3 separate regions of the Homo sapiens genome follow, and regions 2 and 3 are each linked to region 1. Evidence: fine-mapped expression QTL. A gene starts in region 1. Each other region holds a variant in brackets. All regions are shown on one strand. Distances are from middle to middle.

The links. PIP is the estimated chance that this variant, and not a neighbour inherited with it, causes the effect.
Region 2: its variant is the best candidate, but not a certain one, in a credible set for the expression of HAUS6 in fibroblasts (GTEx, PIP 0.68).
Region 3: its variant is the best candidate, but not a certain one, in a credible set for the expression of HAUS6 in subcutaneous fat (GTEx, PIP 0.54).

The regions. Positions count from the first base shown.
Region 1 is chr9:19,099,852-19,111,071 of GRCh38, forward strand. It overlaps HAUS6 (HAUS augmin like complex subunit 6), which reads right to left and starts at 3,053. Exons shown (of 17, transcript NM_017645.5): 1 at 2,673-3,053. The coding sequence starts at 2,800. It also overlaps a transcript of PLIN2 not described here. RefSeq lists an enhancer at 2,732-3,295.
Region 2 is chr9:19,054,105-19,059,104 of GRCh38, forward strand. HAUS6 (HAUS augmin like complex subunit 6) reads right to left here. Exons shown (of 17, transcript NM_017645.5): 16 at 3,857-4,897; 17 at 1-2,300. The coding sequence ends at 2,239. Among named protein-coding and RNA genes, the nearest start is that of RRAGA, 7.2 kb to the left of the region's middle. The variant G/A (reference allele first, on the strand shown) is at 2,652.
Region 3 is chr9:19,168,166-19,179,385 of GRCh38, forward strand. No RefSeq gene overlaps it. Among named protein-coding and RNA genes, the nearest start is that of PLIN2, 46 kb to the left of the region's middle. The variant G/A (reference allele first, on the strand shown) is at 6,271.

The DNA.
Region 1 (11,220 bases):
CCAGCCTCCACAACACAGTGAGAACCCATCTCTACAAAAAGAATAGAATTAAACTTAGCTGCCCAGGTGTGGTGGCTCAGGCCTATAATCCCAGCACTTTGGGAGGCCAAGGCAGGTGGATCACAAGGTCAGGAATTTAAGATTCCGCCTGGCTAAGATGGAGAAACCCGGTCTCTACTAAAAATACAAAAAAATTAGCCAGGCGTGGTGGCAGGCGCCTGTATTCCCAGCTACTCAGGAGGCTGAGGCAGAGAATTGCTTGAACCAGGGAGGCGGGGGTTGCAGTGAGTCCAGATCGCACCACTGCACTCCCGCCTGGGCGACAGAGCAAGACTCCATCTCAAAAAAAAAAGAATTAAAACTAGCCAGGCGTGGCAGCAGGCACCTGTAATTCCAGCTATTCGGGAGGCTGAAGTGGAAGGAAGGATCGCTTGAGCCCAGGAGATGGAGGCTGCAGTGAGCCACATTCAGGCCACTGCACTCCAGCCTGAGAGACAGAGCCAGACTATCTCAAAAAATAAAAACAAAAAAGTAAATTTAATGCCACATCCATGTTGAAAGCATTTAAAGTGGACATGTGTTACAAGATGGTGGATCCTGCAGAGAAAAGGGAATGCTTGTACTTTGTTGGTGGAATGTAAAGTAGTACAGCCATTATGGGAAACCATAGGCTCCTTAAAAAACTAAAAATAGAAGTACCCTATGATCCAGCAATCCCACTGCTGGGTATATATCCAAAAGGAAGGAGATCAGTATATGAAAGAGGCATCTGCACTCCCATGTTTAGTGACACATTATTCACAATAGTCGAGATACAGAATCAACCTAAGTTGAATGGATAAAGAAAACAGATGAATGGATAAAGAAATTGTGGTATATATACACAATGGAATATTATTCAGCCACACAAAAAGAAGAAAATCCTGTCATCTGCAGCAACATGGATGGGACTGGAGGTCATTATCTTAAGTAAAATAAACCAGGCACGGAAAGACAAATATCACATGTTCTCACATGTGAAAGCAAAAAAAGTGGACCTCATGGAGGTAGGGAGTAGAATGGTGGTTAACACAGTCTAGGAAAGGAAAAGGAGAGAAGGAGGGAGGAAGAGAAGTTGATTAATGGGTACAAATATACAGTTAGATAGAAGGAATAAGTTCTAGTGTTCAATAGTACATAAGTGAAACTATAGTTAAAAATAATTTATTGTGTATTTTAAAATAGCTAGAAAAGAACTGAAATGTTTCCAACACAAAGGAAAGATAAATGTTTGAGATGATGGCTATCCCATTTATCCTGATCTGATCCTTATACATTGTATAAGTGTATCAAAATATCAAAATTTTATATCCCCAAAATATGTACAACTATGAACATAAATAAAACAGGCCAGGCTCGGTGGCTCACATCTGTAATCCCAGCACTTGGAGTGGCCAAGGCGGGGGGATTGCTGGAGGCCAGGAGCTCAAGACCAGCCTGGGCAACATGCCGACCCTAGGCATGGTGCCACGCACCTGTAGTCCCAGCTACTCAGGAGGGTGAAGTGGGAGGATCGCCTGAGCCCAGGAGTTGGAGGCTGCAGTGAGCTGTGATCGCACAACTGCACTCCAGACTGGGCGACAGAGTGGGAGACCCTGTCTCAAAACAAAAAACAATGGCTCATATCTATAATCCCAGCACTTTGGAAGACCGAAGCAGGAGGATTGCTTGAGCCCAGGAATTTTGAGACCAGCCTGGGCAACATGGTTAGCTACTGTCTCTAAAATAATAATACTTTAAAAAAATAGAGGCCGGGCACGGTGGCTCACGCCTGTAATCCCAGCACTTTGGGAGGCCGAGGCAGGTGGATCATGAGCTCAGGAGATCGAGACCATCCTGGCCAACATGGTGAAACCCCGTCTCTACTAAAGATACAAAAATTGGTTGGGCGTGGTGGCAAGTGCCTGTAATCCCAGCTACTCGGGAGGCTGAGGCAGGAGAATCGCTTGAACCAGGGAGTTGGAGGGTGCAGTGAGCCGAGATCGTGCCACTGCACTCCAGCCTGGCAACAGAGGGAGACTCCATATGAAAGAAAAGAATTCCTCTTGGCCTACAGTGGGAATGATTAAATAGAGATACTGGCTAAAGTTGATAAAACAGAAGTGGAAAAAGTAGGGAAGGGGCTTTTACTTTCCATACTTTTCTTAAAAGGGTATTTGTTTTTAATACCCTTCTCCGTTGTTTTATGCTAACTCCAACATGCCTTACTAATTAAAAAATTAAAAATTATAAAATTAAACAACCACCTTCAAAGGCTCCCTTGAGTCCAAAAGGTGTTTTGTACATATGGTTCCCATGCTCTTCCACTACCACCCGCCATCCCTCCCACTACTTCACAGACCACCCCTCCACCACATAGGCAGAGTTAAGCTGCTCCTCCAGTCTTGCACTCTCCCCATCTGCAGACTTTTGCACTCCCCTACAGAGCGCTTCCGGCACTCTTGCATTATTTACTGTCTGTCTCTGCCCCTAGGCTGGCAGCAACTGGGAGTAGGAACTTTGGAGCCAATGCCTGGCACAGAGTAACTGCTCAACCAATTCTGATTAATCAACCTCCGGGGTCTACAAAAGGGGGAGTCCCCCGGCGTCCCCCGGTTCAGGCTCCCTCGCCCCGCCGGCCCCGGCCTCCTTACACTCCGAGGTGCGTGTGCGACACGATCTTTCCGCAGGCAATGGTTGCCGGGCCTGGCTCGAAGCCGAGCGCCTGCAGATACATCCAGAGATGCTCCTTCTCGAAAGCGGTGACCGAGGCCGAGCTCATCCTCGCGGTAGGCACGGTGGCTGCAAAGAAAGAAAGCGCAAGCCCAGGGGACTCGGAGGGCCCTCAAGATCCCTCCCTACGGTCAGCCTGAGGTCGCGGTGGTCCTTCCATTGCCAACGCCTGCTCCTTTCACGCCCAGAGCGATTTCGCCTCAAAGGGCCTCACAACCTCCGGGAAATTGAGTTTCTAACGGTATAGTGCGGCCACCACTGCCTCAGCGAAGCCACCACAAACCGAGACTCCCGCCCTTAAGGAAGAGCAGTGTGCGCCGGCGCCGCCAGGCGTCCGAGGGAGGAGGGACTTCCGGCAAAGACTATATCTCCCGCCATGCAATGCGTCCTTCTCTCCTCCCTTCCGGCCATGCCCAGCCAAGAAACTGCAAGACCCACCGGGCATTGCGCGGCCAGCGACTTGCTCTGCGCTTGCTTAACCGCTGTCGTGCCCAGATCCTCGGGCCTTCGGGTTTCTGATTCTTGGTTAGTGGGGTCCATTTGCTTGTGTATCCTAGTTGTTACGTCACAAAAAAGCCATAAATGGAGCACTATGCCTCGGTGTAGAGTTAAAGCATTGGTTCCATCCTCCGCTATGCTCACTGTGACTCTAATCAAGTCACGTAATCTCTGAGCCTCATTTCTGTCGTTAGCGAAATCTATGTCCTCAAATGCCGGATGTTCCTTTTCCTGCTTTAAATGAAATCTGGCTCTATACTCCCCTGCAGTCCTGCAGTCTTTTTTTTTTTTTTTTTTTTTTTTGAGACGGGGTTTCGCTCTTGTTGCTCAAGTTGGGGTGCAGTGACGCGATTTCGGCTCACTGCAACCTCCGCCTCCCGGGTTCAAGCGATTCTCCTGCCTCAGCCTCCCGAGTAGCTGGGATTAACAGGTGTCCGCCACCACGCCCGGCTAATTTTTTTGTATTTTTAATGGAGACGGGGTTTCACCATGTTGGCTGGCTGGTCTCGAACTCCTGACCTCAGGTTATCTGCCGGTCTTGGCCTCCCAAAGTGCTGGGATTACAGGCGTGAGCCACTGCGCCTGGCCGCCTGCAGTCCTCTTAATTTTTTTTTTTTTTTTTTTTTTTTTTTTGAGACGGAGTCTAGCTCTGTCTCCCAGGCTGGAGTGCAGTGGCGCAATCTCGGCTCACTGCAAGCTCCGCCTCCCAGGTTCACGCCATTCTCCTGCCTCAGCCTCCCGAGTAGCTGGGACTACAGGCTCCCACCACCACGCCGGGCTAATTTTTTGTATTTTTAGTAGAGACGGGGTTTCACCCTGTTAGCCAGGATGGTCTCGATCTCCTGACCTCGTGATCCGCCCTCCTCGGCCTCCCGAAGTGCTGGGATTATAGGCGTGAGCCACCGCACCCGGCCCGTCGTCTTAATTGACAGCTGTTGCCTACCACAAACCCCACTGACAACAGGGCCTGGAAGTGGATTGGGTAACCTGCTTTTAAGTCTCATTGCTACCTCTGGCAATGATTGTCTCCTGCCTCACTAAAATCACCTTAATAAAAGAGAGAGAGGCGGGGCACAGTGGCTCACGCCTATAATCCCAGCACTTTGGGAGGCCAAGGTGGGCGGATCACCTGAGGTGGGGAGTTCGAGACCAGCCTGACCAACATGTAGAAACCCCGTCTCTACTAAAAATACAAAATTAGCCGGGCGTGGTAGCGCATGCCTGTAATCCCAGCTCAGCTACTCGGGAGGCTGAGGCAGAAGAATCGCTTGAACCCGGGAGGCAGACGTTGCAGTGAGCCAAGATCCTTCCACTGCATTCCAGCCTGGGCGACAAAGTGAGACTCTGTCTCAAAAAAAAAAAAAAAAAAGAGGAGAGAGAGAGAGAGAAAGAAAGAAAAGCCACTAAGTTGCCCAGGCTGGGCTCGAACTCCTGGGCTCAAGCGACCTGCCCACCTTGACCTCCCAAGGAATGAGCCACCGTGCCCAGCCTAAAAGCACCTTTTGAAGTTTATGCTATCACCCATAGCTTTTCATTATGGAGGTCATCTGTAAGATCTCTGACTCCATTCTGGTGGTGCACGCCTGTGGTCCAGCTGCTCAGAAGGCTGAGGTGGGAAAATCACGTGGGCCCTGGGAGGCTGAGGCTGCAGTAAACTGTGATTGCACGACTGCACTTCAGCCTAGTGACAGAGCAAGACCCTTCTCAAAGCAAAAGAACAGCCACAAAAAAAAAATCTCTGACTCCTGTCGACAAAAAGAGTCAAAGTCTGTAAAATTGTTGCCGGAAAAAACAGAGTCCTGATCCAGACCCAAAGAGAAGGTTCTTGGATCTCGTGCAGGAAATAATTTGAGGTGAATCACAGAACACAATGAAGGAAGCAAGTTTATTGGAAACTACTCCGTTGAAGAGCGGAGCAACCTCAGAAAGCAGGCGGAGGAACACAAGGTCCTTTGTTACTGTCTCTGCTTGTAAGAAACTATAAAGAGCTGTGATTAAACTTGGAATGCGCAGATGTGCTCACTAAAGGTAGGGCTATTGTGCTTTCAGAGACCATTAATCTTTCAACCTAAGCTTGCTCATTAACGTCATCTTTAAGTAAAGTGGGCTGCTCTTTAGAACATCTGGACATTCTGCAGGCTTAGTGGGAGATGTCCTGTATGGCCATAAATATTCTGTAATTATAATTGGTGGCCAGCTTAGAATGTGGCTATTTTTAAACCATAAGCATTAATTTTATAGGAGCCTTGTAAGTGCCTAGCTACTTTAAGATGGAGTCACTCTAGTCATGTTTTATTAAACCAGAGGTCTGGTAAGCAGGGGTTCCTCTAACAGAATATTTAAAGAGGTTTATTCTGAGCCAAATATGAATGACCATGGCCTGAGGCACAGTCTCAAGAGTTCCTGAGAACATGTGCCCAAGATGATGGGGCTATAGCTTTGTTTTATACAGTTTTAGAGAGACATAAGACATCAATCAATACACGTGACGTATACATTGGTTCTGTACAGAAAGGTGAGGCAACTCAAAGTGGTGGGTTCAGGTCATAGGTGGACTCAAAGATTTTCTGATTGGGGCGGATGTGATGGCTCACACCTGTAATCTCTACACTTTGGGAGGCCGAGGCAGACGGATCACTTGAGGTCAGGAGTTTGAGACCAGCCTGGCCAACATGGTGAAACCCCATCTCTACTAAATATACAAACATTAGCCGGGCATGGTGGTGCGCACCTGTAATCCCAGCTACTCGGGAGGCTGAGGCAGGAAAATCGCTTGAACCCGAGAGGCTGAGATTGCAGTGAGCCGAGATCACACCACTGAACTCCAGCCTGGGCGACTGGGTGAGACTGTGTCTCAAAACAAAACAACAACAACAACAACAACAAAGATTTTATGATTGCCATTGGTTTAGAGTCAAGCTACTATCTAAAGACCTGGAATCCATAGAAAAGTTTCTAGGTCAAGATAAGTGGTTGTGGACACCAGGGTTAGTATGAAGTCTCATAGGTGGCCACCCAAAAGTACTAGAAGCTGGATGCGGTGGCTCACACCTATAATCCCAACACTTTGGGAGGCTGAGGCTGTGGATTGCTTCAGCCCAGGAGGCAGAGGTTTCAGTGAGCCCACATCATGCCACTGCACACCAGCCTGGGCAACAGAGCAAGACCCTGTCTCAGAAAAAAAAAAAAAATTTAGGCTAGACACAGCGGCTCACACCTGTAATCCTGCATTTTGAGAGGCCAAGGCAGGCAGATCACCTGAGGTCAAGAGTTCAAGACCAACCCAGCCAACATGGTGAAACCCCATCTCTACTAAAAAGACAAAAATTAGCTAGGCATGGTGGCAGACGCCTGTAGTCCCAGCTACTTGGGAGGCTAAGGCAGGAGAATCCCTTGAACCCAGGAGGCAGAGGTTGCAGTGAGCTGAGATCACATGCCACGCCACTGTACTCCAGCCTGGGTGACAGAGCAAGTATTGGATCCTCAGTTAATCTCTTCAGGATTGGGAGGGCCTGCCAGGGGAAAGATCTACTTATTTATTTATGAGACGGAGTCTCACTCTATCGCCCAGGCTGGAGTGCAGTGGCGCCATCTCTGCTCAGTGCAACGTCTGCCTCCTGGGTTCAAGTAATTCTCCTGCCTCAGCCTCCCAAGTAGCTGGGATTACAGGCATGCGCCACCATGCCCAGCTAATTTTTGTATTTTCAGTAGAGACGGGGTTTCACCGTGTTGGCCAGGCTGGTCTGGAACTCCAGACCTCAGGTGATCTGCCTGCCTCGGCCTCCCAAAGTGCTGAGATTACAGGCGTGAGCCACCAGCCAGCTTCTTTACAGATGTAGATTTCTCCCCATAAGCGACGACGTTGCAGGACCATTTCAAAATATAACAAAGAAACATATTTTGGGAAAAAATATTTTGATTTCCTTCTTTATCTGTCATGTGATATTATGCTAGTCAGGTTGGAAAGTAAGCTGGGTTATATAGGCTTCAACAAAACCCATCTGATGAGATTTTTATGGCTTGTAGGACATGACTCCCCAAGTTCTGTAGATAGGAATTTGGACAAGAAAGAAAAAAGATCAGAGTTTAGTTCTCACTCACTAGGCCTCATTCTAAGATTTGGCAGCTAGGCGCAGTGGCTCATGCCTGTAATCCCAGCACTTTGGGAGGCCAAGGCAGGAGGATCACTTGAGGCCAGGAATTCCAGGCTAGGCTGGTATTCTTCTGCCTCAGCCTCCTGAGTAGCTAGGATTACAGGCGTCCACCACCACACCTGACAAATTTTTGTATTTTTAGTAGAGACAGGGTTTCACCATGTTGGCCAGGCTGGTCTGGAGCTCCTGACCTCAAGTGATCTGCCCGCCTTGGCCTCCCAAAGTGTTGGGATTACAGACGTGAGCCACTGTGCCCAGCCTAATTTTTTAAGGTTTTTTGTTATAGAGAGAAGGTCTTACCATATTGCCCACACTGGTCTGGAACTCCTGGGCTCAAGTGATTCTCCCACCTTGGCCTCCCAAAGTGCTGGGATTCTAAGTGTGAGCCACTGCCCCCGGATTGCTTCTACAGTTTACTCCCTTAACTAATACTTTTTTTTTTTTTTTTTTTGAGATGGAGTCTCACTCTGCCACCCAAACTGGAGGGCGGTGGTGTGATCTTGGCTCACTGCAACCTCTGTCTCCTGGGTTCAAGCAATTCTCCTGCCTCAGCCTCCTGAGTAGCTGGGATTACAGGCCTGTGCCACCACAGCCCGGCTAATTTTTTTTTTTTTTTTTTTTTTTTGTATTTTTAGTAAAGACGGGGTTTCACCATGTTGGCCAGGCTGGTTTCAAACTCCTGACCTCAAGTGATCCACCCGCCTTGGCCTCCCAAAGTGCTGGGATTACAGGCAACTAATACTTAATGCGGCTCTGTGCCAGGCACTGCTTTATGCTTTTCACAAATGTTAACTATTTAATCTTCAGAGCAAACTTAGCCCTATTCCTGTTTTACTGATGAAAAAAATGAGGCATAGAGAAATTAAGTAACTTGCTGAAGGTCACACAGTAAGCAGCAGAGCCAGATTACAACCCAGAGTCTGAGCCCTTACCCATCATGCTATGCTTCCTCCCAGGTGACCTGCTTTTAGTCACATGCCCATCACTAGGCTAAGGGAAAGCAAAAACCTTGACCACTATACCCACTGAGACCTTCAAAAGAAGCATGAATGAATCATGGGAGACCAAAAGACAACAAATGTTCACTATACCAGTGGGAAAAAAAATCATGAAGTCAAGATTATACAGCCCAATTTTCATTATAAGTATTTCAGCAATTAAACTTTAATTATATTAAATGATTATATGACACAGAACTAGGATCTCTTACAAAAGTTTAGATCAGAGTGTCATTGCAATTAAGACCAATGTAGCCAAAAAATAGATTAACACTCTTCAAAGTCACAGGAATAAAAACAGGAAGTTTAATGTAATACAAATTGCGTATTCAACCAAAAGGGGTATTTTATTGTTGTTAGTTATTCAACATCTTGCCCTGAGAGGACAGGGCCATTAGCATGTGAATTATTTGATCCGTTCTCCTCTTCCAAAGCTATAATATCTGGAATTTCATCAGTCTCAGATGTCAAGTCTATGGTGGTGAAATCAAACACCTGTAAAAGAAGAATCTTGGATATTGAAACAAACACCGATGAAGTGAGTTGTCAGGTCCATCTGAGCTCATGGAGACTTTAGTGCATGTAGGTGAACCTTGCTTTGTCCATAGCTGTGCTTTTTGAAAAGATGTTTGTGGTCTTATTCCTGCAATTCCCTCATACTATAAAAGCACTAAGGAAACCTTTTAAAAAGGAAACTAACTAGTGGTGGAACCTAGTCAATGAAGCTTTTTTAAAAAATACCAGATATAAAGCATTTTTTGTTATTCAACTATTAATCTATTACTTTCTTAAAAACAATAATACCCCACTTTTCCATAAGCAAGTGTCTAGGCAAATGTTTAGCAACTGAGGAAACAAAAGGTCTTTTTATGGTTGAAACAGCCATCACAAAACCCTACCTCTTCCCTGCACAGGAAAGCCTTTAGGGACAAGAAACTCTATCAAATTTTATTTTATATACAATTTCGATAAGCTAGGTAATGTTTCTTAGCAAACAACAGATTAAAACAAGAAAATTAAGGCCAGCTGCAGTGGCTCACGCCTGTAATCCCAGCCCTTTGGGAGGCCGAGATGGGAGGATCACGAGGTTGGGAGATCGAGACCATCCTGGCTAACACGGTGGAACGCTGTCTCTACTAAAAATACAAAAAGTTAGCCAGGCGTGGTGGCATGCCCCTGTAGCCCCAGTTACTCAGGAGGCTGAGGCAGGAGAATCACTTGAATCCAGGAGCAGTGAGCCGAGGTTCACCACCACTCCAGCCTGGGCGACAGAGCGAGACTCTGTCTGAAAAAAAAAAAAAAGAAAGAAAAGAAAAAAAATTAATAACATAAAACGTATTACCAAAGGCTAGAATCTTGATAGTGGAGGAAAAAATGTAGCTGATTACCTAACAGAGGAAAAAGAGCTAACAGCAACAAAAATCCCTCAAAAAGACCAGGTGCGGTGGCTCACGCCTGTAATCCCAACACTTTGGCAGGTGGATCATGAGGTCAGGAGTTCGAGACCAGCCTGGCCAACATGGTGAAACCCCATCTCTACTAATAATACAAAAATTAGCCGGGTATAGTGGCAGATGACTGTAATCCCAGCTACTCGGGAGGCTGAGGCAGGAGAATTACTTGAACCCAGGAGGCAGAGGTTGCAGTGAGCCAAGATTGCACCACTGCACTCTAGCCTGGGTAACAGAGCAAGACACTGTTTACAGGAAAAAAAAAAAAATCCCTCAAAAAATAGAAGGAAAGAGGGAAATTGGGGAGTTATTGTGGGTTTTTTTGTTTTGTTTTGTTTTAGATGGAGTTTCACTCTCTCCCCCAGGTTGGAGTGCAGTGGCGTAATCTCAGCTGTCTGCAACCTCAGCCTCCCAGGTTCAACTGATTCTCCTACCTCAGTTTCCCGAGTAACTGGGATTACAGGCGTGCGCTGCAACCATGCCTGGCTAATTTTTGTATTTTTTAGTAGAGATGGGGTTTCACCATGTTGGCCAGGCTGGTCTCGAACTCCTGACCTCAAGTGGTCCAACCTCCTTGGCTTCCCAAAATGTTGGGATTACAGGCGTGAGCCACTGCACCCAGCCTGGAGTTATTGTTTAATAGGTACAGAATTTGTGCTTAAGATGAATATAACGGTGATGGTTGTATAACATTGTGAATGTGCTTAATGCCACATAATTGTACACTTAAAAATTGAAAAAATGGAAATTTTGACATTGGATTTCGTTTTGTTTTGTTTGTTTGTTTGTTTTGAGATGGAGTCTCATTGTCACCCAGGCTGGAGTGCAGTGGTGCAAACTCGGTTCACTACAACCTCCACCTCCCAGGTTCAAGTGATTCTCCTGCCTCAGCCACCCAAGTACCTGGTATTACAGGCGTGTGCCACCACACCCGGCTAATTTTTGTATTTTTAGTAGAGATGGGATTTCACCATGTTGGCAAGGCTGGTCTTGAACTCCTGACCTCAGGTGATCCACCCACCTTGGCCTCCCAAAGTGCTGGGATTACAGGCATGAGCTACCGTGCCCAGCCAGCTCTACTATCTTTTATATGGCACTCTCAAATGGCACTTTCATAAAATCTGTACCAGCTAAAAACCTAGAAAGTATATTATGTATCAAGACTAGGCTCCCTTGTGAGATTCAAAGCCTTTCATTATATTATATTTCATATTATATCTCTAATCTGCAGGCCCAGTTTAAGCAAGAAAAACATGAGAAGAATCTCAGGCAATTCTGTCTACCTCCCACTGCAAACATTTTCCCCTCGACTGCCTTCCTATCACTTCACTTAGTCATCTTACTGACAATCTTAACAATTTTTTTTTT
Region 2 (5,000 bases), 49 kb before region 1:
GCTGTAATTGTGGTAAACTAGTAGAGGAAAGCAAGGTATTCCTGCTTCAGGAAAATTGTATATCAAGACCTCTAAAGACCCATGCTCACTGAAGCATTTCAGTAAAAAAATGGGAGATTACAGCGGAAGGGGGAGTAGAGGAAATCCGTTACAGGGGAACTTACATGCCTTTAAATTTGAACTCTATTTTAGAATTAACAATGAACAATCAATGGAATTTTAGGCAAGGAAGTGACCCAATCAAAACAGTTCCTTAAGATCAAAAGGTAACTATGTAGGAGATACTGGATAGGGAAAAGGCTGAAGGCAAAAAGCTGCCATCACATTGGTTTAGGAGAAGAAAGTGACAGATCTGAGATACTTTTTGTTTATGGTACTGGCATATGAAGAACAGGAAAGAATGCCAAAAACTTTCAGCCCATCACAGGTATAACTCAACAATGTGATTTTTACAAATCCAAAATGTCTACAGACATTCTGCTCTTTTGATTCTCAGTAATTAAGGGTTTCTCAGACTTGGGTGGCCAACTTGAGCTTCCCTATCAGATAGTTACCAATCTCTACCCAAGTATATATGCAACAACGTACCTGCTTCTTAAAAGTACCACAGGGTTAAATGTGAATCTCTATTTCCTAGCAGCAGTTCTCAAACTCTTTCTCGAGCTTAAGAATTACCAAGGAAGCACATTTAAAATATAATTAAATGAAATAATACACATTAAGTGTCTAGCAGTGGCTTTGGCACTTCTGCAGATGCTGATAAGACAGTATCACATGCTAAGTTAAGATTTTCAGATACTGAGTTTTCTTAAAGCAGACTAAAGGTTTCCCCATAGACCTGCATAGTCCCTGATTTGTTTTATTAACTAATAAAAGAAAACAGCAACTTAGGAGAAGATTTTTTCTTTCTCCTTTTCCATTGCAAAGAAGGTAGTTACATGTGCTTTCTTTTGTCTTTTCTCACAAAAAGATGGGTCTTCACACTGGGACAGGACAACCAACTTAGAGAAAGGCAGCCCAAGATAAAAGAAATAACTATTAAGCCATCTACTTCCATAAATTTCCCCTCCACCTTCTTTCCTTGCCAGTTTTTTGGGGGCTAGTGGACAAGATTTTGATGGTAGTGAGATGGGGTCTACAAAGGGTATTGTAGGTACTATCACCCTTCCATTGCCTGTTCCATTCCTCCTGGTTCACAGAGGGCAATAGTATGTGTTCACTTGGATGCTAGACACAAGTCTTTTTCTAGGCAGGGCACCTGAAGGAGTGAGGCAGGAGACTGCAAGTGTGACAAGTTATTTAACCCCAAGTTCAGTTTTCTCAAGTTACTGTGAGGCTATTCTGTAGGGACTGGGGGATTCTGATGGTTGTTCCTTGTTCCTTTCCCCCAACAGGGAGTACCTCACAAAAAAACCCAACAACAAAACAGACTAATGAAAATTTTAATTTATATTTTTGTTAAAATATAAAAGTAGCATTAAATTATCAAAGTCTAAATTAGACTAAATATAAATGTTATACAACCCACTGAATGGATTTATAGTTTGACAGTGTTCCTTGCAAGTGTCTACTCATCTTCCATCTTTTTCCTTTTTTTAAATCATTCTGCCCCAGTCTTCACTTAATCATCACATGCACTTTATTCCATCAAACATCACTTCTCAGGATCATTCTACCTGAAGAATCATTAAGCCTGTTTAGAGCTTTTCCAGTCTTAAAATTTGTCATCTTGACTACACATCCCAAGGTACTACTTTTCTCACTTTTTCTGGTTAGCCAGAATGTTCCATTAAGAAACAATAAAAGTTGTATAGTTCTCTAAGATGAAAGATTAGTATATTCAATGGCTATTATATTAACCATTTAGTGAACATACAACAAAAACTATCCTTATATTAATTGACTGAAGTTATAACATAAGAAATAAGTTACACTACTACTTTGTCATTCACTTAATGCTTACAAGATTACTCAAGAAATCAAAATGGCTTCCCATTGCTTGACGTTTGTTGTCCAAATACTTCACATTTCAATCTCATATACCTACAAAGAGGAAAAAATCCAAACATACTTTCCTTACCTAAAAATATTAAAGAAGGCTAAAAGGCATTAGGAATTTTTTTAAACCTTGAAAAACAGTGTTACACTTCCAACATGTATTTAAGTTGTAATTCATTTTCTATCCTGTGGCATAGCTTCAATTTAAGTGCATCATAGTTATATTAAATGGGTACGTCTTCATCTTGTCAAGTCAGACGGTGGTTCTTTTGCATCAAGGCTCTTATTCAAAATGTCTTCTTCTGCAAATTGATTTTAAAAAAGTATAAGCAAACATTACAAAGAAAAATAAACAATAGATTCCAAGCAATAGCAAATTTTAGTCAATACAAAAAAGGTTCATAGCTTTGCAAATACTTGATTATGATAAAATTATTATTATTCTCACCAAAGTACCCTCTTTCTCCAGAGATCAATACATTCCTCCCAGAGTACTTTTTTTTTTTTCTTTTTTCTGCGACAGGGTCTTGCTCTGTCACCCAGGCTGGAGTGCAGTGGCACGATCGCAGCTCACTTCAGCCTCAAACTCCCAGGCCCAAGCAATCCTCCCACCTCAGCCTCCTGTGTACCTGGGATCACAGGCATGCGCCAAC[G/A]TGCCCAGCTAATTGTTTAATTTTTTGTAGAGACATAGTCTCCCTGTGTTGCTGAGGCTAGTCTCGAACTCCTGGGTTCAAGTGATCCTCCCATCTCGGACTCCCAAAGTGCTGGGATTGCAGGTGTGAGCCACTGTGCCCAGCCAAATACTTTTCAATATGGCAGTGTATAACTATTATGGGCAAATCAGAGTATGTAATGAATCTGTATCACCAGATCCTTATCTCTCTTAATGAGCTACAAGAGCAATTTTTTTAACCTTTTATGAGGAAAACATTCAAACATACAAAAGTGAAGAGAACTGTGATTAACTCAATATATCCATCACCTAGCTTCAATAATTATTAATACTAACTGTTATGAACTGAATACCCCCAAAAACATATGTTGAAGTTCTAACCCCAGTACCTCAGAATGTGACCTTATTTGGAAATGTGGTCATTACAGATATAATTAGCTAAGTAAGATGAGGTCATACTGGAGTAGGGTGACCCATTAATTAGCTAATATGACTGTGTCCTTATAAGACAATACACACACAAGGGAAGAATACCATGTGACAATGGAGGCAAAGATTAGAATTACACTGCCACAAGCCAAGGAATGCCTGGTGCTACCAGAGGCTAGAAGAGGCAAAGAAGGATCCTCTTCTAGTGGCTTCAGAGGGAACATGGCCCTGTCAACACCTTGATTTTGGACATCTAGCCTCTAGAACTTACTGTCTCCAGAGACAATAAATTTCTGCTGTTCTAAGCCACCCACTTGATGGTGCTTTGTTATGGCAGCCCTAGGAAACTAATACACTGACCTGGCTTCTTTTATTTCTACACCCCACCCCCAGATATTACACCATTATAGTGATGATATTTAAAATTGGGTTTCTCAAGTGTTTAAAAACCACCTTCCACTGGGCAAGATTTTGATGACATTTACTTTTCAGTCATTTGTATTATAAAACCTGTAAGCTTCAGATTGGGGGGGCTTTTTTTTCCCACCCCTGTCTCAAATCAATTGTAACTATATATACATAAACAGAGATTCTGAAAGGACCTGTCCAGTGAGGGATCATTCCCCTCATCCTAAATGAAGGAAGGGGGAGCACATTAACAATAAAGGTCATGCAGCATTCTTTGTGTACTGGTTTTATCAAAAGTTGAGAGAAAACTTCAACAGGTGAATATGCATAGGTCTATTTAAACCTTACCCTTTAAATTAGGTAGTTCTCCAAGACTACATGCTATTGTGGTTCTCAATCTTTGTTCCACTGGAGAAAACTTAATTAGTGGTGAAAGAGACCGTTTTCTTTCACCGATGGACGTGCGTAAAGATGGCTTTATATGCTCAGTATGCAAATCACAGGTGTCCAAAAAGTTAAGCGTATCATCTGTTTGTACATTTTGGGGAGTAGGGCTCAATTCTGGTTTGTGTCTTTCGGGTGTTTGGGAATTCGAGAGGTAAGATTCTTCCCTTTTCTTGGAAAGAGATTTCTTCAGAGCCTCGTATCTACTGCGAAGAGCCTGTAAATTAAAGTCTGATTCTGGAGTAGTCTGTCTCCCTCCCACAACATCTTCTAGAAGAGTGCCACCATGCATAGGACTATTTGGCTCCAGTTTAAAATTGGCCTCTGAACTACTGGAACTATTAAAACTTAGATGACCAACTTCTTCCGGGAGAGTTTCGTGTAATATGCCAAAATCATTATCTTTAAAACTCTTAGAACTAATTCCACTTGATATCTGAAAAGAATTCCACAACATAGTTTTATTTGTGGAAGGTTTGTTACAAGAAACTTCTAAGTGGTCCAATATTTTCATAAACTCCTCTTCACTGCCACCCATCACATCTATCCTATTGCCGACAGCAGGGGAGAATGTCTCCATTCGGCTAGTTTCTGAAAGCTTGGTGAAGGCTAAACATTCCAAATCTTGCTTGCAAATTACTTTCTTATTTAACAAATCTGACTGATTTTGTGTTGGTGGTTCATCTATGTGACTGGTCAGCACATGTTTCTGAGGCACACACTCGCAATCTGAAATAACTTTCTCTTCAGTCAAATGAGACTGGCCAAAATCTGATACAGTGGTTTCTAAGAGAAAATCAGCCATGCTAAATTCTCTTTGATTGTGCAACACAGGTAATGATTCTGGCAATACTTCTCTATGTTCAGCATCCATTTGAATTGGTTCTTTAGTTCTGTTTTCTTCCATTTCAATAGCTTTTCTCCATGAGCTCCTAATTTCAGTTACTAATTAAAGGGGAGAAAAACACAGTTTACTAACATTCCCAAACATAGAGCATGCAATGAATCATTTTATTTCTAACACTGAAGATAAAGCTCCTGACTCAGT
Region 3 (11,220 bases), 68 kb after region 1:
TTTTCAATTTTTTTCTTTTTTTTTTTTTTGAGACAGATTCTCACTCTGTTGCCTAGGCTGGAGTGCAGTGGCGCGATCTCGGCTCACTGCAAGCTCCACCTCCTGGGTTCACGCCATTCTCCTGCATCAGCCTCCCAAGTAGCTGGGACTACAGGCGTCCACCACCACACCTGGCTAATTTTTTGTATTTTTAGTAGAAACGGGGTTTCACTGGAGATTGTAACACATATCTCAGAAAATGAGAGCTCAAGCCAAAAAAAGATTTATTAAGAGTATGAAGGGCTGGGCGCGGTGGCTCACGCCTGTAATCCCAGCACTTCGGGAGGCCGAGGCGGGCGGATCACGAGGTCAGGAGATCGCGACCATCCTGGCTAACACGGTGAAACCCCGTCTCTACTAAAAAAAATCCAAAAAAATTAGCTGGGAGTGGTGGCGAGCGCCTGTAGTCCCAGCTGCTTCGGAGGCTGAGGCAGGAGAATGGCGTGAACCCAGGAGGCGGAGCTTGCAGTGAGCGGAGATCGAGCCACTGCACTCCAGCCTGGGTGACTAAGCAAGACTCTGTCTCAAAAAAAAGAAGAAAAAAAAAAAAGAGTATGAAGATTTGTACAACACAATTAAAGCAGTTCCTCAAATGACCTACATAGAACTCTGAAACCAAATATTAGAGAAAAAACTTTTTCTTTTCAAGCACAAAGGATTACTTAATAAAACTGACAATGTACTAAGCCAAAAGAGAGGTCTTCTTAAATTAAAAAATCAATATTATATAATCCAGATCCTCAGATCAGAATATAATAAAGTAAAAAACTGATAACAAAAAGATAATTTAAAAATGAATTAGAAAATAATAATAGTTCAAAAAATAGCAAAACACCCATATTTATGCAGCCTTTGACTTTCAAAAAGGAACCAAAGCAATCCAATGAGTAAATGAAAGTAATTCAATAAATTATGCTGCATATCCTTATGGAAAAAATAAATCCCTTCCACCAGCTCATAACACACAAAAATCATTTTGAGATAGATCATAAACCTAAATGTAAAGCTAGAACCATAAAGCTTTTAGAGGAAACATGTGAAAATAACAGCTTGACTTGTGAATAGGTGAAGGTTTGAGAAAGCAGTAGACTTCATCAAAAAGAAATACTTTTGGTTACCAAAAGCCACCATCGGCTAGGCATGGGAGGCTGGGGTAGGAGGATCACTTGAGTTCAGCCTAGCCTGGGCAAAATAGGGAGACCCATCTCCACAAAAAATAAAATAAAATTAGTCTGGCACGGTGGCACGTGCCTGTAGTCCCAGCTACTTGGGAGGCTGAGGTGGGAGCGTCTCTTGAGCCCGGGAATTTGAGGCTGCAGTGAGCTGTGGTCGCTTCACTGCACTCATCCTGAGCAACAGAGCAAGACCCTGTCTCAAAAAACCAAAAACCAAACAAAACATGCTGAACGCAGTGGCTCATGTCTGTAATCCCAGCACTTTGGGAGGCCGAGGGAGGCGGATCATTTCAGGTCAGGAGTTTGAGACCAGCCTGGCCAACATAGTGAAACCTCCTCTTCACTAAAAATACATTAATTAGCCAGGTGTGGTGGTGCGGCTATAGTGCCAGCTACTCGGGAGGCTAAGGTAGGAGAATTGCTTGAAGCTGGGAGGCAGAGACTGTAGTGAGCTGAGATCATGCCACTGCACTCTAGCCTGGGTGACAGAGTGAGACTGTCTCAAAACAACAATAAGCCATTTTTTTTTTTTTTTTCCTGAGATGGAGTCTTGCTCTTGTTGCCCAGGCTGGAGCACAGTGGTGAGATCTCAGCTCACTGCAACGTCCGCCTCCCAGTTTCAAGTGATTCTCCTGCCTCAGCCTCCCAAGTAGCTGGGATTACAGGCACCCACCACCACACCTGGCTAATTTTTGTACTTGCAGTAGAGATGGGGTTTCACCATCTTGGCCAGGCTGGTCTTGAACTTCTGACCTTGTGATTCACCCGCCTCGGCCTCTCAAAAGTGCTGGGATTACAGGCGTGAGCCACTACGCCCGGCCTTTTTTTTTTTTTTTTTTTTTTGAGATGGAGTCTCGCTCTGTGCCCAGGCTGGAGTGCAATGGCTCGATCTCGACTCACTGCAACCTCCATCTTGCGGGTTCAAGTGATTCTCCTGCCTCAGCCTCATGAGTAGCTGGGATTACAGGCACATGCCACCACGCCCAGCTAATTTTTGTATTTTTGTTAGACATGGGGTTTCACCATGTTGGTCAGGCGGTCTCGAACTCCAGACCTTGTGATCCGCCCACTGCGGCCTCCCAAAGTGCTGGGATTACAGGCATGAGCCACCGTGTCCAGCCCAACAAGCCACCACTAGGAAACAGATGCAAGCCACACACTGGGGAAAAATTATTAACAAAATATATATCAGATAAGGCTGCAGTATCTAGGATATATAAGGAATTCCTACAACTCAGTAATAAAAAGACAACTCATTTTTTTGAAAGGGAAAAATATTTCAATAGATACTTCACCAAAGTAGGTATGTGGCTGGTCGTGGTGGCTCACGCCTCTAATCCCAGCACTTTGGGAGGCCAAGGCAGACAGATCACCTGAGGTCAGGAGTTCAAGACCAGCCTGGGCAACATGGCAAAACTCCGTCTCTACTAAAAATACAAAAATCAGCCAGGCATGGTGGCGTGCGCCTGTAATCCCAGCTACTTGGGAGGCTGAAGCAGGAGAATAGCTTGAACCTGGGAGGCGGAGGTTGCAGTGAGCCCAGATCATGACACTGCACTCCAGCCTGGGTGAAACACACACAGACACACACACACACACACACACACACACACACACTAATAATAATAAAAAGAAGATATGTGAGTGTCCAGTAGCACATGAAAAGATGGTCAACATCATTGGTGTTCAGGGAAATGCAAACTAAAACCTGAATGACATACTGCTACACACCCACCGGGATGGCAAAAATTTTTTAAATAGTGAGGATGTGGAGCACCAAAACCTCATACACTTATTAGTGGTCATTAAAACTTAAAAGTATTTTAAGAAAAACTATTTGTGACTTTCCTCTGAATTTTCTTCATATCTATCAACATACACTACAGGCAGGCAAAGAGGAGAAGGATGGGGGCAGTGGGGGATGGGAATCTCAGGAAAAATGGAAAAAGTTTTCCAAGGACGGAGGTGAAACAGAGAGAAAAATAATGGGAGGAAAGTAAATAATAGAGACAAGAGGAAAACAGTAGGAGGCAGAAGCAAACTGTGAGCTACAGAAGGAAGAGGCAGTTAGGAGGAGAATAGACATGTGAAATCAAAGTGTGAAAATGAGATGATATATAAAGTGCCTAAAATAGCACCTGGCATATAGGATTACATAATATTCAAATACAGTTATTAACTAGAAATCAGAGGGAAAAGTAAAAAAATGTCAAGTATTCTATAGCTGCTTTTTTTTGTTTTTTTTTGTTTGTTTGTTTTGTTTTGTTTTGTTTTTTGAGACGGAGTCTCACTCTGTAGCCCAGGCTGGAGCGCAGTGGCGCAATCTTGGCTCACTGCAACCTCCGCCTCCCGGGTTCAAGTGATTCTCCTGCCTCAACCTCCCAAGTAGCTGGAATTACAGGCATGGGCCACCATGCCCAACTAATATTTGTATTTTTAGTAAAGACTGGGTTTCACTATGTTGGCCAGGCTGGTCTTGAACTCCTCACCTCGGGTGATCCACCCACCTTGGCCTCCCAAAGTGCTGAGATTACAGGTGTGAGCCACTGCACCCAGCCGATAGCTGCTTATTGAATAAATGTTTAGGTGCCCTAGTGATGCATAAAGTACATTGGTTCTGTAAGTGTTCTGTGCTAAATTAGCATTGTATATTGCTAACGTTAGTTCCCCCCAACCCCATAGTTCTATTTCTATCTTAATTTGAGCCTGTTATTGTTTTAGGTCTATTGTTGAGGCAGCAGCAAGGAATATTCAGGATGTAATTTGGTTTCTCATTTCCTGGCAACAATCACGTGAGAGGCAAATGAGAGGCTTTTGCTGAAAGGCTTTTTAAATCTGTAGTAATGAGAACAAATATTAAGTAATCCACTTGTGGATAAATAAAAGTTGCAGTGCTATGATTCAATCTTCATCTGATGAAACCAAAGTTCATTATGAAAACATAATTACACTCAAGATTCTGTACTGGGGCAGGGCTTGGTGACTGATGCCTATAATCTTAGCACTTTGGGAGGCCGAGGCAGGAGGATCCCTTGAGCCCAGGAGTTTGAGACCAGCCTGGGCAACATAGGGAGACCCTGTCTCTATCTTAACAACAACAAAAAAAGATTCTGTACTGAAATGTGATGTGAGGTTGGAACACTTACTGCATGGGAAAGTTGCAGGCGATGTCTGAGTTTCCCTGTGCAGGTTGTGAAACATACAACCAATTAAAAATTACTTTATGGCCAGGTGCGGTGGCTCACACCTGTAATCCCAGTACTTTGAGAGGCCGAGGCGGGCGGATCATGAGGTCAGGAAATTAAGACCATCCTGGTTAACACAGTGAAACCCCGTCTCTACTAAAGATACAAAAAATTAGCCAGGCGTGGCACGCTCTTGTAGTCCCAGCTACCTGGGAGGCTGAGGCAGGAGAATCGATTAAACCCAGGAGGCAAAGGTTGCAGTGAGCCAAGATCGCGCCACTGCACTCCAGCCTGGGCAACAAAGCAAGACTCAGTCTCAAAAAAAAAAAAAAATTACTTTAAAGCACTCCTCAAGTATAAATAAATATCAGCATTCTGAAAAATGAAGGGGACTGAAGGTGGTGAGTGCCAGCACATTTTTCTTCCCCAAGAGGAAAAAGAGATATGGCAAAGGATGCCGATTGAATGATAAGATGCCTAGTGTGGTTGGTGCAGGACTACCCTCATGTGTTTGGCAGTATAAGCGGGCCTTTAATCACCCACCTGCCGGTTGTCATACTTCGCATCACCCCTCTCCCCATCACGGGGAAGGGGAGGACATGTCCCTTCCCCAACTCGTGTCTGCCAAAAATGCATTCATGCTACTATTGTTATTCCTTCTCATGCCAAATCTCATCTGTTTATTAGCCTAGGACCTGGGGCAGGGGGCAGTAAGGTTGGGGGATCACTTGAGCCCAGGAGGTCAAGGCTGAAGTGAGCCATGATAGTGCCACTGCACTCCAGCCTGGGTGACAGAGCGAGACCATGTCTCAAAAAAAAAAAAAGACAGAAATTTCTAAATTGTCTTCTATTAACAGTAATCATAAACCAGTGTACACTCTCACTAAAAATATATGAGAATGCCTATTATTCTAAACCAAATATCAGAACTGTTGATATTTACCATGTAAGTTAAAATAGCATCTTTTTGTAGTTTAGTGTGCATTTCTTTTATTATGAAGAAGATTGGGAATCTTTTCCAGAATTTGGGGAGGTAGGTGGGTAAACAAACACAATACAAAAGTACTGTGACAAAGAGTTTTCTAGGAAGGTCAGATAAGGTCCCACAGAGGAGGTGGCATTTGATCTAGGTCCTGAAGGATGAGGGGGAATTCCGCCATGGAGCTTATTGATCCTGGTATGTAGTCAGCCAAAATGTTCAACAACTATATGTTGACTTAAGTGATAAAATCAGCCAGGTGCAGTGTCCCACGCCTGCAATCCTAATCCCAGCACTTTGGGAAGCTGAGGTAGGAGGACCCCTTGACTGCAGGTGTTCAAGACCAGCCTAGACAACACAGGGAGACCTCATGTTTCCAAAAGACACAAAAATTAGCCTGGTGTGGTGGCCCGCGCCTGTAAGTCCCAGCCACTCTGAAGGCTGAGGCAAGAGGATGACTTGAGCCCAGGAGCTTGAGGCAGCAGTGAGCTGTGACTATGTCAATGTACTCCAGCATGGGGAACAGAGACTCTGTCTGAAAAAAATAAAAAGAAGTTATAAAATTGAGATGTTTGGGTTGAGGTGAGAGGATTGCTTGAGTCTAGGAGTTCAAGGTTGCAGTGAGCTATAATTGCACCACTTCATTCTAACCTGGGCTACAGAGCAAGACCCTGTCTCCTTAAATAAATAAATAAATAAACACATATATAAGACATATAGGCAACAAGTTTTCTGGATGGCTAAGGGGATTTTTTGCTATACGTGGCAAGACACTGACACACAAATACCAGTACACGATTAAGCAAGCCACCCAGTATGACTGGGTCAGTCCCGGGGGAACTGGGCAGGAGCTTTATAGTGTACATCTGGTTTCTTCTACTTTTTGGATGTT[G/A]AGCGACATCTAATGGCCAAATAGGAAAAAGTCTATGTTTTCAGTTTCTTCTTTTCCTTTCCTTCTTTCTTTCCCTTCCTTCCTTCCTTTCTCTTTTTCTTTCTTTCTCTCTCTTCCTTCCTTCTTTCCTTTCTCTCTCCTTCCTTCCGTCCTTCCTTCCTTGTTTCATTCTCTCTCCTTCCTTCCTTCCTTTCTTTCTATCCCTTTCTCTCTTCCTTCCTTCCTCTATTTTTTCCTCCCTCCCTTCCTTCCTTTCTTCCTCTCCTTCCTTTCTTCTTTTTCTTTTCTCTCTGTCTCTCCCTCCCTTCCTTTTCTTTCTTTCTTTCTTTCTTTCTTTTTTTCTTCCTTTCTTTTTTTGACAAGGTCTCACTCTGTTGCACAGACTGGAGTGCAGTGGCACAGTCACAGCTCACTGCAGCCTTGATGTCCCGGGTTCATATGATCCCCCCACCTCAGCCTCCTGAGTAGCTGGGACTATAGGCATGTGCCACCACGCCTGGCTAATTTTTCCGTTTTTTGGCTGCCCAGGCTGGTCCAGTATTTTATTTTCAAAGAAAATTCTCTTGTAGGAACACATACACAACCTAAAAAAAAGTTTCTCCAGATTTAAGGAAAACTTGAGTCTTATTTTTCCCTGTGAACATAGAAGAAAACTGAATAAATTAGAGGTAAGCTAATTTTTTTTTTTTGAGACTATTTCTCTCTTGTTGCCCAGCCTGGCATGCAATGGCAATGATCTCGGCTCACTGCAACCTCACCTCCCGGGTTCAGGCGATTCTCCTGCCTCAGCCTCCCGAGTAGCTGGGATTACAGGCATGCACCACCATGCCCGGCTAATTTTTGCATTTTTAATAAAGACGGGGTTTCACCATGTTGGTCAGGCTGGTCTCGAACTCCTGACCTCAGGTGATCCACCTGCCCTGGCCTCCCAAAGTTCTGGGATTACATGCGTGAGTCACTGCACCCGGCCAGAGGTAAGTTAATTTGTGTGGTAATTTTCTTTTCTTTTTTCTTTTTCTTTTTTTCTTTTTTTTTTTTTGAGACAGAGTCTACCGAGTCTTGCTCTGTCACCCAGACTGGAGTGCAGTGGTGCAATCTCAGCTCACTGCAACCTCTCTCCCCCGGGTTCAAGCGATTCTGCTACCTCAACCTCCCAAGTAGCTGGGATTACAGGCGCCTGCCACCGCGTCCGGCTAATTTTTGTATTTTTAGTAGAGATGGGGTTTCAGCATCTTGGCCAGGCTGGTCTTGATCTCCTGACCTCGTGATCCACCCACCTCGGCCTCCCAAAGTGCTGGGATTACAGGCGTGAGCCACTGTGCCCGGCCTTGTGTGGTAATTTTCATCAAATGAAATAGAAAAAAAAGATGTTAGAATTGGAAGAGACCTTACATCCAATCTCCTCATTGTGTCAATAAGGAAATTTATGTCCAGAGAGAAATGATTTGCCCAAAGCCACACAGCTAGAGAGTTATTAATGCTGTAATATAGTCGTGATTTTGCTACAATGAAGAGAGGAACAGTGAATATATTTACCCATCCATTTGCAAAGCAAAAAAAAAAGGGCAAATACTTTCTGATTACTTTAAAACCTAATAATGTATAATATTGGCCATGCATGGAATTTAATACTATAATGCTCAATAATATAGTAGTTACTGGCAATTAGGGTCTTGGCCTAGGGTATTTGATTTTTCAGGCCAATAGTGGACAAAAACAGACAAATTCCTATGAATGCCAGACTACATTTCAAAAGACCCAAGTAAGATTTTGACCTCTGTAACCTGAGAGTTGCTTCCCTAATATTTCTCTTTGCCTCTTATCTGACAATAGGCAAAGTTGAGGTAGGAGATGAGTATCAAACCACATCATTTAATCAACCAACCCGTAAACATGTATATATCCCCTTTTGTATGTTTAGCATCACAAGGATTGTGGGGACACAACTGTATACATAATGGAGAACAAGTCATGGTGAACTCACTTCTCCTACCTGTTGATAGGAGTTGAATCAAAAGCAGCTTTGAGGTAGAAGGGAAGTTACAACAATACTATAACCACTCTTGCAGATATATTTATTAACTCATTGGTAAGTATTTGTTGAGTATCTACTATATACCAGTGCTAGGGATACAACAGAAATCCAGACCCAAACTCTCCATGAAGCTTATAACCTGGTAACTATATGCCAACAATTGTGATAAGTGCTACAAAAAGAAAGTACTGACCGGGCGCGGTGGCTCATGCCTATAATCCTAGCACTTTGGGGGGCCGAGGCAGGTGGATCACCTTAGGTCAGGAGTTCAAGACCAGCCTGGCCAACATGGTGAAACCCCATCTCTACTAAAAATACAAAAATTAGCCAGGCGTGGTGGCACATGCCTGTAATTCCAGCTACTTGGGAGGCTGAGGCAAGAGAATCACTTAAACCCGGGGGGTGGAGGTTACAGTGAACTGAGATCGCACCACTTCACTCCAGCCTGGGCGAAAAAGCGAAACTCCATCTCCAAAAAAAAAAAAAAGAAAGAAAAAAGATGATGCTTTGGACCAGAGTGGTATAGAAGGAAGTGGTGAGAAGGGTTTGGATTCCGGAAATATTTTTAAAATAATATCAACAGATATTGTTGATACTTTAATGTGGGGTATGAGAGAAAGAGAGGATTTAGGGATGATGCCAAGATTTTTGGCTTGAACTATTGGAAGGGTGGAGTTAGTGGCTGGGCACGGTGCTCACACCTATAATCTCAGCACTTTGGGAGGCCAAAGGGGAGCGAAATGCTTGAAGCCATGAGTTCGAGACCAGCCTGGGCAACATGGCAAAACCCTGTCTCTACAAAAAAATACAAAAATTAGCTGGATGTGGTGTGGTGTGCCTACAGTCCCAGCTACTTGGGAGGCTGAGGTAGGAGGATCGCTTGAGCCTGGGAGGCAGAGGTTACAGTGAGCCAAGATTATATCACTGTACCACTGCACTCCAGCCTGGTGATAGAGTGAGACCCCATCTCAAAAAAAAGAAAAGAAAAAGAAAAAAAGTGGAGTTACTGATAACTACAGTGGGGATTTATGTCATGTACATATCTTCCATATATGCATATATCTTTGTCACCTCTCAATAGTGCCTTCATGACCAGAATCTTTTTTTTTTTTTTTTGAGACAGAATTTTGCTCTTGTTGCCCAGACTGGAATGCAACGGCACGATCTCAGCTCACTACAACCTCCACCTCTTGGGTTCAAGCTATTCTCCTGCCTCAGCCTCCCGAGTAGCTGGGATTACAGGCATGCACCACTAAACCCAGCTAATTTTGTATTTTTAGTAGACAGGGTTTCATCATGTTGGTCAGGCTGTTCTCGAACTCCTGACCTCAGGTGATCCACCCGCCTTGGCCTCCCAAAGTGCTGGGATTATAGGCATGAGCCACTGTGCCTGGCCCCAGAATCTTAAAAATATATTGTTCATAGCCAATATATATTTATTATTTATGTGTGAGACATGATATCACTAATGTAAATATAATATTAACGGCTTTTTTGTTTGTTTTTGAGACGGAGTCTCACTCTTGTCACCCAGGCTGGAGTGCAATGGCACAGTCTTGGCTCACTGCAACTTCTGCCTCCCAGGTTCAAGTGATTCTCCTGCCTCAGCCTTCCAAGTAGCTGGGTTTACAGGCACCCAGCTAATTTTTGTATTTTTTTGTAGAGATGGGGTTTCACCATGTTGGCCAGGCTAGTCTCAAACTCCTAGCCTCAAGTGATCTGCCCGCCTCAGCCTCTAAAAGTGCTGGGATTACAGGCATGAGCCACTGTGGTGCCTGGCCCTGAATTTTTTTTTTTTTTTTTTTTTTTTTTGAGACAGAGTCTTGCTCCATTGGCCAGGCTGGAGTGCAGTGGTGTGATCTTGGCTCTCTGCAGCCTCTGCCTCCCGGGTTCCAGCGATTCTCCTGCCTCAGCCTCCTGGGTAGCCGGGATTCCAGGCACACGCCACCATGCCCAGCTAATTTTTTTTGTATTTTTAGTAGAGACGGGGTTTCATCATGTTGGCCAGGCTGGTCTTGAACTCCTGATCTCAGGTGATCCGCCTGCCTTGGCCTCCCAAAGTGATGGGATTACAGGTTTGAGCCACCGTGCCCTGCCACCCCTGAAGTATTTTTAATTGGACAGATTTTCTTAATTTTGAAGAATCAAATTCTTTAGGATCTGGAGATCCACTTCATTCTTTCTAATCTGTATGGTATATCACAGGATGTACCATAATTTAACCATTATCTCGTTTGATAGACATTTAGATTGCTTCCAACATTTTTCCTACAACTAAAACATCTTTACCACATATTTTCAAGCATATGAATAAGGACTTAAATAGGAGAAATCCTTTAAAATACTTTTGTTTTGTTTTTATTAGTTGGTTTTGAGACAGGGTCTCACTCTGTCACCCAGGCGGGAGTGCAGTGGTGCGATCACGGCTCACTGCAGCCTCGACCTCCCAGGCTCAAGCATCCTTTCGCCTCAGCCTCTGAGTAGTTAGGACTAGAGGCCCTCGCCACAACACTCAGCTATTTAAAAACAATCTTTAGTAGAGATGGGGTCTCACCATATTGCCCAGGAAAGTCCTGAGCCCCTGAGCTCAAGCAATCTGCCTGCCTCCAACTTCCCAAAGTGCTGGGATTACCGGCATTAGCCACTGCGCCCGTTCTCCTGTAAAATGCTTTCTAAAAGCAGGAGGCTGAGGCAGGAGAATCACTTAAACATGGGAGGCAGAGGTTGCAATGAGCTGAGATTGCACCATTGCACTCCAACCTGGGCAACAAAAGTGAAACTCTGTCTCAAAAAATAAATAAATAGGCCAGGCATGGTGGCTCATGCCTGTAATCCCAGCACTTTGGGAGGCCAAGGCGGGTGGATCACCTGAGGTCAGGAGTTCAAGACCAGCCTGGCCAACATGGTGAAACCCT